2 separate regions of the Homo sapiens genome follow, and region 2 is linked to region 1. A link means that fine-mapping ties the variant in region 1 to the expression of a gene that starts in the linked region. Tissue or cell type: whole blood. Region 1 holds a variant in brackets; the other region holds the start of a gene. All regions are shown on one strand. Distances are between the middles of the regions.

Region 1 (2,683 bases):
ATGGGGGAAAAGCCCCTTGTAAAACCATCAGAACTAGTGAGAACTCACTCACTATCACAAGAAGAGCATGGGGGTTACTGCCCCCATGATTCAATTACTCCCACCAGGTCCCTCACACAACACCTGGGGATTATGGGAACTACAATTCAAGATGAGATTTGGGTGGGGACGCAGTCAAACCATCTCAGTTGCCCAGGCTGGTCTCAAGTTCCTGGCCTCAAACGATCCTCTCGCCTCGACTTCCCAAAGTGCTGGGATTATAGGTATGAGCCACCGTCCCCAACTTAGGAATTCATTTTAAATGCCTTCCAGTATTATGCTGCTGCTAGAAATGCAATTCTAAAAAGTACACCCAAAACACCAAAAATACTTACGCAATGTAACATTAACAAGACAAGAATTCAAAATAGACACACCATAAATATAACAATGTAAAAAATATATGCAGGCGGGAGGTAACAAGTAAAAACAAACTGTACTGGAGTAGGGTGACTTTAAAAATAAAATCTCTTATTTCCTACATTAATTATTTGCTACCAATGTTTGTTCTTTTTTTTTTTTTTTTTTGCCTGGGATTAATCATCAGTAGGTGGAAGTTTGTAGAGAAACATTTGATATCTACAAAATGAACCACAAATGTGGCTAAACGTGCCAGCTACATGACTTTTTTTTTTTTTTCTTTTTTTCCTGAGACAAAGTCTTGTTCTCTTATCCAGGCTGGAATGCAATGGCGCGATCTCGGCTCACTGCAACCTCCGCCTTCCAGGTTCAAGCAATTCTCCTGGCTCAGTCCTGAGTAGCTGGGACTACAGGCAAGTGTCACCACTCCTGGCTAAATTTTATTTTTTGTATTTTTAGTAGAAATAGGGTTTTGGCATGTTGGCCAAGCTAATCTCGAACTCCTGACCTTGAGTGATCTACCCACCTTGGCCTCCCAAAGTGCTGGGGTTACAGGTGTGAGCCACTGGGCCTGGCCTACATGACTGCTTTTCAAGGGAATTGTTTTAACATGTTAAGAGGCTAAGCACAAAAGTAGCATTCAAGTGTTGGTTAGACACTTTTGAATATTATTTGATTTAAACATTTCTTTCAAATGGCATGCAAGAAATGGCTTAGGGGTTCTCAGGACTGAGGAATCAGGATGGGAACTTGATAACAGGGACCTTAGGTTGAAAGCTATTGTTCTAAAACAAGGTGCTTTCCCGGCATGGGAAGCAAATGCTGGGTTTTACAAGACCACAAGTGAGGCAGTGCCTTTGACTTGGCATTATCTACTGTGGCAACAAGCAGCAAGGTCATGATAGGGTT[A/C]CTGGTGGAATAGCCTTGCTTTTTGGAACAAAAATTCCCACAAATTACCCACATATCAAAGTTATCCATTAGCTAACAAACATGAACGTTTTCTAGCAAATAAAACACGCATATCACAAAGTCCTCTCTTTAAAAGAAAACATAAAGAAGAGAAAGAGAAAAGAAGCTGATGACGGTGAAGCCTGATTTAGCAGATACGTTTATTCAACACAGTGCATGATTCAAAGCATCGGATATTCCACAGCCAACAAGGTTTCCTATTCCCTATTACAAAATACCGGATACCCTGAATATAGCTCATTCAAGGTCCTCGTTCCTTTTTCCCTATATCTAGAATTAAACAGGTTTCCCCGTTTAGCGCACATTTCACGTTCGCTGAAGGCTTTGGGGAGAGGGGGAAACAGAGCTTATGACTGCCCCTCTGAACCAAAGGCACTTAATGTTAAAAGATAAAGCACAGTAGAGTCACCCCACAGACATTCCTATGTGTTCAACGGCTGAACTTCAGCATACCATCACCGGCCCCATGTGGGATTCATCATAACAACGTAAAAGACACTGATTTCCTTGGAAAAACAAAGTGCAGTACGAATATAAAGGAGTCACCACACCCCTCTTCCGAAAATAATACATAAGAGAACTCTTACTTTACATGATTAGTATCACTCAAGGTTCACACATGGAAAAAATAGCTAAAAAATAATCTATAATAAATTCTCACTATGAAGTCACAATAGAATCTGATACCCTTTTTAGAACTGGTGAGTTGGAGAGACACCCAGAGGTCATGCTGTCCATCCCTTCATTTGATAGGGGAGGGCACTTGAGGCCCAGGAAGGTCAAGCGTCGGACCTGGGGTCTAACCCCTGTGGCAGAGCCTGCGTAGGACGCGGGCCTCCTGAAGCCTAGCTCAGGGTTCCCTCCACTCCCCTTCCTCTTTAAAGACTCTCAAAAGTAAAATATGGTGATGATCTCCAAAGATGCACCACACCATAAAGCACATGCACTGACCCAGGTCAGCAATTTGGTCTCACAAGGCGGTTCCTTTGGCCATTGGGCAGGTATGTAACCCACCTCAGGGTGGGAATTCTTTGCATGGGATCGTTCAAAGTTCTGAGAAAAGCCCAATGTAGGTCAGACACGACTGCTCCTTGGACTGGGGAAGACTTTCCTTGGTTGTCAGTCCATAGTGGGCAGGCGGTCGGCTGCACAGCGGAATCCCAGATTCGAAGCAGAGCTATCAGGTGTGTTCTGGCTCCGAGCAGCACAGCGATACCTGTAACAATAAGACTGTGTAGAGAGAAAGAGCAAGGTAAGTGCTACTGGGACTCTCAGCTGAAGGCTCTAACCCATCAGATGCATATTGCACCGGCTG
Region 2 (2,683 bases), 110 kb after region 1:
AACAATGAGAAGCCCAGGTATCAACCTCCTACACTCTACACCTGAGAGACTAAATCATGGTCCTGACCCCATCACCCTCACAGTCCAGTTGGGGAGAGACATCAGCAGAAAAACATCTTTAATAATTGTTATGTCAGAATAAACACATAACTACTGAGGCAGGATACGGAAATATTGAAGGGGAGAGAAAGAGGAGATCAGGTAAAACCTACTGTGGATGTTACCTCTCACCTAAGTCCTAAATATTGGTCAGGATTAACCCAAAGGAAAGAAAAATGGAATGGGAAAAGGATAGTGTCTGCTAAGTAAACAAGAAGGAGCACTAGTTTAGGAGTCAGAAGACCTGACCTTTAGACCCATAAGTTGTTTCGACAACACATCAATATGCAAAATACCGGGCAGACAGATTGAAGTAACAGTTATTTCTTTCTTTCTTTTTTTTTTTCGAGACGGAGTCTCGCCCTGTCGCCCAGGCTGGAGTGCAGTGGCAAGATCTCGGCTCACTGCAACCTCCGCCTCCCGGGTTCCAGCAATTCTCCTGCCTCAGCCTCCCGAGTAGCTGGGATTACAGGCGCCCGCCACCACGCCCGGCTAATTTTTGTATTTTTAGTAGAGACGGGGTTTCGCCATGTTGGCCAGGCTGGTCTCGAACTCCTGACCTCGTGATCCGCGCGCTTCGGCCTCCCAAAGTGCTGGGATTACAGGCATGTGAGCCACCGCGCCCGGCCAGTAAGTTATTTATATATCCCGGCACCTAACACATACAGGCGCTAAGCAAGACAGATAAATAATAGCAATAAAACAACTACAGTTTGCTTAGCCCTTCCTAAGTGCTAAAGTGCTAAGAATAGCAGGATAAACAATTCAAGCCCTTGTCCTCAAGCAGAGTGTACTCGAGGAGACTACAGATAAGTATACAACAACCCTGGTGAAGATACTGAGACCCAGGATCCTAATTTATTCCGTTAATAAGAGAGGAAATGGTGATTTAAACCATAATTTGATTGCCTTAAAATTATGAGATCCTCATTAAGAGAACAGGTTGGAGGGAGAAAGAAATAGGGGGTAAAGAAGTAACAATAACCCTCAAACCAAACTCCCTAATGGTCAATTAAATGGAGTCTTCCGGTGAGGCACGGAGAAGGAACTCCTCATACGGGAACAGCAGGTGCTCGATTTGGGGTGTGGTTATAACCTTTACTTCCCTTCCTACTAGTGCCTTGCTTTGCCTACTCCAACCCCGTCCAGGAACCGAGCAGCCCCCACCCGCCTCGGAGGAATCGATGGAGCACCTTTGAGTGCGCGAGTTGCCGCTCTCCGGGTACGGGGCCCGGAGCGTTAGCCTCCCGCGAGTATCGGTGAGCGGCTGCCGAACTGCCATGGGCGCCAGGCCGCTGGGGCGTGCCGCAGCCGCAAGAACCCGCAAGGGACCCCGCGCCCGCACCGGTCCCGGCCTCCTGGCTCCCTGCCGCTCCACACAGCAGCGAGAGCAGCAGCAGCAAGAGGACGAGACCCAGCTCAGGGCAACGTCCACACACCAGCCCTAGTGCGGGCGCAGCCATGTTGTCCCGCGGGCCATGTGACCCGGTTGGTCACGTGGCTGAGCCCTCCTTAAAGGGGCAGAATTTTGAGCTGACTTACGAAGTGACCAGGAGAGTTGCTCTTCACCTTTCTTCAGGTACTTCTTTGGCGCTGCTGCTTGCCTGTGCTAACGTCAAAACGCAGCAAAACACAAAACTCCACAAAACTCAAGGCCTTCCACAGACCGTGCACCCCTTTATGATTTCTTGGTTGAAAAATAACAGTCAAATTTGCTGGGCATTTGGTAAGTGCCAGAGTACTATGCTAAGCACTTCACTTTTTAAAATCTCATTTAATCCTCACAAAGACCCAGTAATGGCGCGCTTGTAGTCCCAGCTAGTCGGGAGGCCAAGGCAGGAGAATCGTTTGAACCTGGGAGGCGGAGGTTTCAGTGAGCCCAGATCCCGCCACTGCACTCCAGCCTCGGCGACAGAGCAAGACTCCGTCTCAAAAAAAAAAGAGAAATACAATACGGAATCAGAATCCGTGGGGACTGGACACAGCAATCCAGGGTTTCACAAGCTCTCCAGATGATTCTAATCCACACTTAAGTTTAAGAACCACTGTTCTACAGTTCCGTAATCGAACAAAATGCAAAACCAAAACAAAAAGAAGATGAAGGAGAAACTTACAGATTAAAAAACAACATAGCAGGCCGGGCGCGGTGGCTCAAGCCTGTAATCCCAGCACTTTGGGAGGCCGAGGCGGGTGGATCACGAGGTCAGGAGATCGAGACCATCCTGGCTAACACGGTGAAACCCCATCTCTACTAAAAAATACAAAAAATTAGCCCGGCGTGGTGGCACGCGCCTGTAGTCCCAGCTACTCGGGAGGCTGAGGCAGGAGAATGGCATGAATCCGGGAGGTGGAGCTTGCAGTGAGCCGAGATGGCGCCACCGCACTCCAGCCTGGGGACAGAGCAAGACTCCATCTGAAAAAAAAAAAAAAAAAAAAAACATAGCAGCCAGCTGCAATATGTGAACCTTATCTAAATACTAATTCAAACCTACTGAGTTCAAAATTTTTGAGATAATCAGGGAAATTTAACCACTAAGTCAAATTATAATATTTGATAAAATTAAGGAATTGCTGTAAATTTTGT

What was found. PIP is the estimated chance that this variant, and not a neighbour inherited with it, causes the effect.
Region 2: it holds the start of SUMF1, and the variant in region 1 is fine-mapped to the expression of SUMF1 in whole blood (INTERVAL, PIP 0.95).

The regions. Positions count from the first base shown.
Region 1 is chr3:4,359,657-4,362,339 of GRCh38, forward strand. It overlaps SUMF1 (sulfatase modifying factor 1), which reads right to left. Exons shown (of 9, transcript NM_182760.4): 9 at 1,490-2,598. The coding sequence ends at 2,488. Among named protein-coding and RNA genes, the nearest start is that of SETMAR, 58 kb to the left of the region's middle. The variant A/C (reference allele first, on the strand shown) is at 1,309.
Region 2 is chr3:4,465,684-4,468,366 of GRCh38, forward strand. SUMF1 (sulfatase modifying factor 1) reads right to left here and starts at 1,586. Exons shown (of 9, transcript NM_182760.4): 1 at 1,293-1,586. The coding sequence starts at 1,562. LOC124909340 (a long non-coding RNA gene) reads left to right here and starts at 1,141. Exons shown (of 2, transcript XR_007095789.1): 1 at 1,141-1,825. RefSeq lists a silencer at 1,283-1,462 and an enhancer at 1,633-1,812.